Homo sapiens: one gene and its partner. The protein of the gene in region 1 interacts with the protein of each later gene in a biochemical or structural test. Each region holds a gene or a part of one and is shown in the gene's direction. Other genes may lie near its edges.

The links.
Region 2: the proteins of NCBP1 (region 1) and PARN form a complex in vitro, tested with the Homo sapiens proteins (one study listed by IntAct).

What each region holds. Positions count from the first base shown.
Region 1 is NC_000009.12:97,636,717-97,640,537, forward strand, and holds part of NCBP1 (nuclear cap-binding protein subunit 1), read left to right. Parts: intron 1-3,821. UniProt on the Homo sapiens protein: Component of the cap-binding complex (CBC), which binds cotranscriptionally to the 5'-cap of pre-mRNAs and is involved in various processes such as pre-mRNA splicing, translation regulation, nonsense-mediated mRNA decay, RNA-mediated gene silencing (RNAi) by microRNAs (miRNAs) and mRNA export.
Region 2 is NC_000016.10:14,435,106-14,438,486, reverse strand, and holds the end of PARN (poly(A)-specific ribonuclease PARN), read left to right. Parts: intron 1-1,714; coding exon 1,715-1,770; 3' UTR 1,771-2,786; downstream 2,787-3,381. UniProt on the Homo sapiens protein: 3'-exoribonuclease that has a preference for poly(A) tails of mRNAs, thereby efficiently degrading poly(A) tails.

The sequences.
Region 1 (3,821 bases):
CCTAATTACTTGCCATACAGCAGTGGACAATATAAAGATAGAGCCTCCCCTCTAGAGTAGAGAGAAGACAGTCAAGTAAAGTATAGTGTATCATATAGTGACAGGCGCTATGGAGTGATACCAGGTAAAGAGGGGAGAGATTTCTGTGAGGGAGAAGTTACTATTTTATGTAAGTTGATTAGAGAAGGCTTCGGTGTGAATGGCATTTGAACAAAGACTTGCCGGAGGTAAGGTAGCAGCCATATAGCTGTATGGGGAAAAGCTGTGATCCAAAGGTAACCATGGGCACAAAAGCCTGAAGACTATAGGGTTCCTGTCATGTTAACAGAAGAGCAAGGAGGCCAGTGGTGCTGGAGCAGAGTGAGTGAGGGGGAAGTTGTAGGAGATAAGATTAGAGAGATAGCAGAGGGTTGCATCTTATAGGGAGATTATAAAATTATACTTCTGTGTTGAGACTCGACTATCAAAGATTAAGGGGGGTAGGATTAGGAGGCTATACCAATGAAGTTCATGTAGTAGTCCATTTATAAACAAGGAAAAGGAAATGCTAAATGGAAAGTAATGTGTATGGATACTAGTCCAGTGCTAAATCTTAACTAATTGCTTAGACTTGCTTTAAAAATGTCTCTGAAGCTTTTTAGTTACTATGGGATATGCAGTCCATTGTTTGTTCTTTTAAGAAAGTATTTAGATTGTTCAAAATCTTAGCTAGAAACAATACGAATACAATTTTGGGAATTTGGGCAATTTACAAAAATTTCAGATTTGCTGTATTAGCCCCATTTAAGCTTCTTAGAATTAGGTCCTTGTCTTTTGGACTGTGGCTGATTTTTTTACTTAACTAAAGAAAAAAATAGAAGTGAAAGGATTTGTTATTTTGAGAGAGTATAGTTTATTTCAGAAGTGATGGTTGCCTGTTTTAAGTCTGCGGGCTCAAGGCATGTTATCTTTCAAGTTGTTCAATATCAAAATAGATGAGCCAAAAAGAAGGGAACAGTGTGCTTAAGGTTTAAAAACGTAATGTTGAAGTTGTTGGTTTTAGTTACTTTACTTTTCTATTTTACAGGGTTGGTTTTTGTTTTCCATTTTGTGGGTCTAAAATTTCTTGTAAGGCTATAAGATGTACAGTGTACCCGTATAAAATTAGGATTGACTTATAGAGGGGAAATTTATTTGGTTTATTAAGATCCTTTCAGATGGATTTTATACCTGCTTCTCTATACTAGCCAAGTCTGTCTGAGTGAAGTGGTAATGTTATCTTTAATTTACATTTTAAAACTTTTACATAGTTAAATTTTAATAAAAAATCTGTTCTTGCCTTGGGAACTACCATAGATACGTTTTCTTCAGGGTACATTGAGCGAATTCCCCAAATTGTATTCGTATTGTTTTATTTCATTTCCCTGTTCCCTTACCCAGGTTGTCTTATGAGTTCAATATCATGTTTCTGTTCGTAAGTTCAGATTTTGTCTGTAGTCTTCACCCCTTTATAGTCTCTCAACTATCAGGTGAAAGTGGAACATTTCTTACCTCTTAATACTTTCTGCCTCCTCCCATTCTCCAGACAAATATTGTCCTTTAATATAGCCAAAATGAACAAAGGGTTTGCAGTTCAGAGATGTGACTATGTACATGTATTTTCTAGTTGTTTCTCAGAAATCATACCTTCTCTTCCCACAGCACTATTTTCCCCTTTTCAAGCTTATAAGAGGGCCTAGGAGGGTTGCTTTAAAGGCTGTGGTATGATTCCAAACTGGAACAAGCCAGCTGGAAAGTTAAGTTAGGAAGACTGTAGAGGTGGAATAAAGGGTTGGCAAAATAGATGAGCCAGAAAGAAGGGAACAGTGTGCTTAAGGTTTAAAAAACAGCAACAAAAAATAACTGCTCTCATTCAGCTAGTTTTTCAGCATCTGCATTCTCCCAACCTCACTGAAATTTGGTTCTGAGGAGCTCTGCTTTCTAGAATACGGTTTCTTAACATCAGCACTATTGACATTCTTGGCCAGTTATTTGTTTTGGGAGATGCCCTATGCAACGTGAGATATTTAGCAGCATGCCTGGCCCCTACCCACTAGATGCCAGTTGCTTCCCCTAGTTTTGACTACTAAAAATGTCTCCAAGGTTTGCCAGATGACCACTGGGGGCAAAATCTACACCCTGTTGAGAACTACTGCTGTAGAAGAAGGCTATTTGAATGTCCTAGCTGGCAGCTTGCGTAAATATTACATCAATTATGCTTTTTTTCAATAAGTGAATCCTGGAAATGAAAGACCTTTGTGTGAAATTTGGCACTTTGGGTGGTGGAACCTTGATAGGTCCTGTGACTTAGGTTTGATCTATACTTAAGAATCAAGGTCCCTGAACCTCTGTGCCACACATGTCTACAACTTTACACAGGCAGATATCTCCAGGAATAAATACATCTCAGCTCTCATGCTGCATGCGTATTATACTTTTTGTGGCATTATCCTTTCAAAATTATAGTCAGTGGACATTCAGTCAGGTTATCATGGTAATTAATGGGTTGGGAAGTTGACGTACAGAGTGTCTTACCCTGTAACCTTTATAATACCCCCCCTCAGATCCTATGTGGATAGTAATAGATTCGTTTTATTCAGCTTCAGTTCATGTGGTATCTGAAGATCATTTCAGTCATTCAATAGATTTAACATTCCAAGCTTAGAATAGCCAGGTGCTGTGTTTTATGAGAATCACCATACATCATTTTCAAGCCAAGTGTTCCATAGGCAAGTAAGTGATTATGAACTTTGTAACAATAATTCCTTTGGCTGTTCAGATCTGAAGATTGAAGTTATATGTAACTTGCTACTGTGTAACCATATATCCAACTGCAGATTTTCATTATTAATACCGATTCCCTGCACAGTTACAGGCTCTTGCTTTCTTGTCCATATGCCGACCAAATAATTGAATCAATGGAAGTCGAAAATTGGATTGTATTAGACTAGCCAAAGTGTTTAGCAGCAGCATCAGGTTCCATACTTAACACTATTATTTTAATTTTTTAAGCTTTATGTTATACCACAAAAGGACTTAGGTGAGTGTGTTAAGGCTTTAAACAAAGTGGTAAGAGATACAAACAGCAAGGGTCTTAATAGACAGGTGTTTGAGGTTAATTTTTAGCACACCTTCATTCAACTTGAATTGTTGAGCAATCAAAAAGACAGATGCTTGGTAATGATTTTAGAATGGTAGATTTAAAAAACATAGAGATTATTCGAATGATATGGTTTTTAAATAAAGCAGTTATCAGTAATTCAGTTAATAAAAGCTAGTTAAAGCAGGAATTGTAAAACGTGGTCCTTTTTTCCACCAATTTTTTGATATAGTGCTCAGGACTTTTCTTTGAATATACGTATACTGACTGTCGTTCCCATTATTTAGGATAAACTATACCGTTGTGCTGCATCATATGCAGAACTGAAATTGTTAATTGAAGACTTGAGATTAGAGCTTAGAAACATGTGAAGCAAGTGAGAAATCCTAATGTTTTATGCTCCTTTTTCCCATCTTTTGAAGCTTTCCTCTTTATAGCTGATATGACAGCTTTTTTTTCTGATCAAGTCTTTCCAAAGCATTCGACTTGGTTTTGCACCCTTATTTTGTCATTTACATAATACATTATTAGACTAATGAATACTACTGGTACTAACAGGTTTCGGAACAAGCAACTGAGGATCAGTAAACAACTCAAGTTAAAAGAATGGGAGTAGCGGTACATGAGTATTCTAACTACTAGTGTTTAACATGTTGTTGGCAGCTTTCCAGCTTGTCCACAGAAATGGACAGGGCTGCTGATT
Region 2 (3,381 bases), on another chromosome or scaffold:
CTGTGTGTCTGGTGGCTCACTGTGCACTCACACACCCCCCCCCCCAACTAATGGCAGGTGCAGATTGGCAGGTGCAGATTACAAGTATTGCAGTGCAGTTGCTTTTAGCAATTTATCTTCCTTTTTCCTCTGAGCTGGATTTAATTTACTTCAGTTCCCCACATTTGGCATTGTAGCTTTTACCTTTAGAATGGCTAATTGGCTACTGCAATATTTCTTTCATATGTGAATTATAAAAGTGCCCTTAATGGATGTTTCTTTTCATACAGTTAGGTGTTTATTGTATCATTGTGGGACTGGGAAGGCCAGGCTAGCTGCAGGTTATCACAGGCCCCTTGCAGTACTTCACTGGACCCCATGAGTCCTTTTCAGTGGATCATCTCCTGCCCATCTTCACTTCTCCAGAGTGGTCTCGCCATCTTTACTGGGTGTCCCAGAACGTGCCTGTTCAGAGCGATGAGACCCAGGGCAGAAAGAGTCCGGTTACCCTTTCCCGGTCTCCTCACCCTAACTCCCTGGATCTTATCACAGTAAATGATCAGAAGTAGAAATTCTCATGTTAGCTGAAATTCTCTTCATGTTTTTTCTTGTGTTCAGACCTCGTTATTTTTAAGCATCCCTGTTACTGATGATAACCACTGTGAACTCAGTGATATGATTCCCTAGTTTGTAAGACACTGCACCCCCTCTGTATTTAAAAGTTATTTCCCATTGGAGGTATCATCAAAGACTTCTCTCCCTTTCTAAAATCTTGGTGTTAGCAGCTAGAAGAGAGACTGCCAGTTTCCCCCGTCAGCCCTACTTTATGACTTAATGCATGGCACCACTTGTGCAGCTGACGCCTGGTCGGGCCACACTTTCCATTATGAACATGCTCTTTCCTGACTTCCCTCACATTCGTTGAAGTCCAGTCCCAGCTCAGTTGCTGGCCGCAGCTGCTCGTATTGTAGAAAGTGGCATGAATAAAAAAGAAGGGCTTCTGACATTGGGGTGAAACTTTGTCACTGAAGAGATCTTTTCAATCCAAGAAGAGGACCCCAGCCAGCTTCACCGAAGCTGGAAAAAGCTGCAACCTTCTTTTGCCCCTGTTGAGATATTGGAACCCCCACTGGTTGGCTTCCCTCTGCCCTTCAGCTGCCCACCTGAGATTTCTCACCTAGGCAGAGCCACAGCACAGCACAGAGAAACTCAGTTTCCAGGGACTTTGGCAGGGATGTTGGTGCTGTGGGAGGATTCAGACCCCATCTCAGCCACTTGCTAGCTCTGTACATCTGGTCATATTACCCCACTTCTCTCAATCTGTTCTTGCATCTGTAAAATGGGGTAGTGTTACCACCTTGGTGGGCTTTTAATGAAGATTATATGAATTAAATGCCCGCTGTATTGCCAACAAAGAATCCAGCATGGTGTTCAGTGAGGAATACTGTGCATGGCTACAGTTTAACTCCTGTGAAATAAATAGATAGATGCTGGAGGCAGGGAGGTGCTTCCTCCGCGCCCCCATGATGTTTCTGTGGTTTCACTTTCCCATGCTGGGCACTGCCCTCCCTAGACAAGACCTGTCTGTGGACTCTTTCCAGCGCAGCTGTTTAGCCAGACGCTGGCCCCGTCTGCAGCCGTCACAGGCCCTCTGTCTGTCTGCTGGTCATGTCATGCTCTCCTCAAGGTGCCGTCCTGGTCCTGCTGTTCATATTGTTTTGTTCTTTCCCACCAGGAAGCATCTCGAAGAACAGCCCTGCCACACTCTTTGAAGTTCCTGACACATGGTAACCAAGACCTGAGGGCAGCAAACCGCTGGTGCTGTCGCTGTGAGCAAGAGCCGGCTGGCACATTTGGAAGCCGCACTGTATTTAACTTAATCAAATGTGGTATGGGAGGGGTTGGAAACCAAGTTGTCTCCTGGGGGGGAGAAAACAGGTTTTATTTTTGTGGCTGTGGTTTTTTCCCCTTTTTAATCTAACTGCCTGTTGACATTGACACTCATCACGGTTGTAGGCTGTCATGAATGTGTACGTGCTTAACCAGTGAATTCCGTGTTGCTCTTGTGAGGCCTTTCCTGTCATGACCCAGTGTGCTTAAGAACCTGCCTGATGGGGAGTGTCGGCTGTGAAATCTGCAAAAAGAGCTGACATTCCAGCTGCTGTGATCATGAATTTGGGGGTGTACTGTCCTGCCTGTGCATCTTCTCGCACTGAGATTTTGAGGCAGTTGCAGCCCTCGGTTAGTCTCCCAGTGGAAAAATCGGTTGTGCCTCCCTGCTTCCCACCATAGCTGCCTGAAAACATGACGCTCTCAAGCTTGTCCTTCCTTCAGGAAGATGTCCACTCATGCCCACCCATGAGAGGGCTTGCCGTATGCCCTGGCCTTTGGGCATATTTATGTAGAGTTCCTTTCTCCTAAGACGTGAGTTTCTCATGGGGGATGTACGAGTAAAAAGGTTAACTTCTGTTCTTATGCGTGGCGCTGTGTTCACTTTCCAGAGTCTCTGTTCGTTTGTTTGGATGGCGGTCTCGGGGTACGGCAGCGTGTGTGCGTACGTGTCTGTGTGTGTGTGTGTGTGTGTGTGTGTGTGTGTGTGTGTGTGTGTGTGAAATCGTGCAAATCTACAACATGTCCCAGCCCATTCTCCGTTGAAACAGATCACAGCAACGACAAACGCTCATGGCGCTGCTTTGCTCCACCCGCTTCAGATAGATCATTGTTAGATATTTCACATTTTTGTATGGTGGAAATAAAAATGAAAAATGTATTTCCAAAAGATGAAAATTAAAAACATTTTCATAGGACTCTGGTTTTCTCCTCTCTTTTTTTTTAATAAGTGAATGATGTTTTCGCTCTCTAGTAATACACAGATAAATTTCACACTCCTAAAAAAATCTGCTAAGCCACTAAGGCTGATGTTCATGGATTTTTTTCTTCTTCTTTTTACCCCTAACTGCTATACCTGCCACGATGGATCGGCTCCTCAGTACCGAGCTGAGCCCTGGTGGTAAGTGGCCTTGTAGGAGGGTGGGAGGAATGAGGACCCTTAGCACTCACACTGGAATCCCAGGGTGTTATGCAGATTCCGATTTGTAAGACAGTTTCCCTAATCAAGAGCCTCTGTCACACCTGTAAGCTGAGACGGGAGGATCACTTGAGCCCAGGAGTTCAAGACCAGCATGGACAACGCAGTGAGACCCTGTCTTTAAAAAAAAAAAAAAAAAAATTTTTTTTTTTTTTTTTTTTAAAGCATGTTAACTTCTCTTCCCCCTTCCTGCTCCTCTCCCTTCCTACAAAACTCCCTGGAGTTTTGTAGCCACAAAGTTAGAAACCCAGGCTTGGCAGGAAGGACTGCCCACCCCTCCTAGAGTAGTCAGCACACACGGCTCAGTGGAAAGT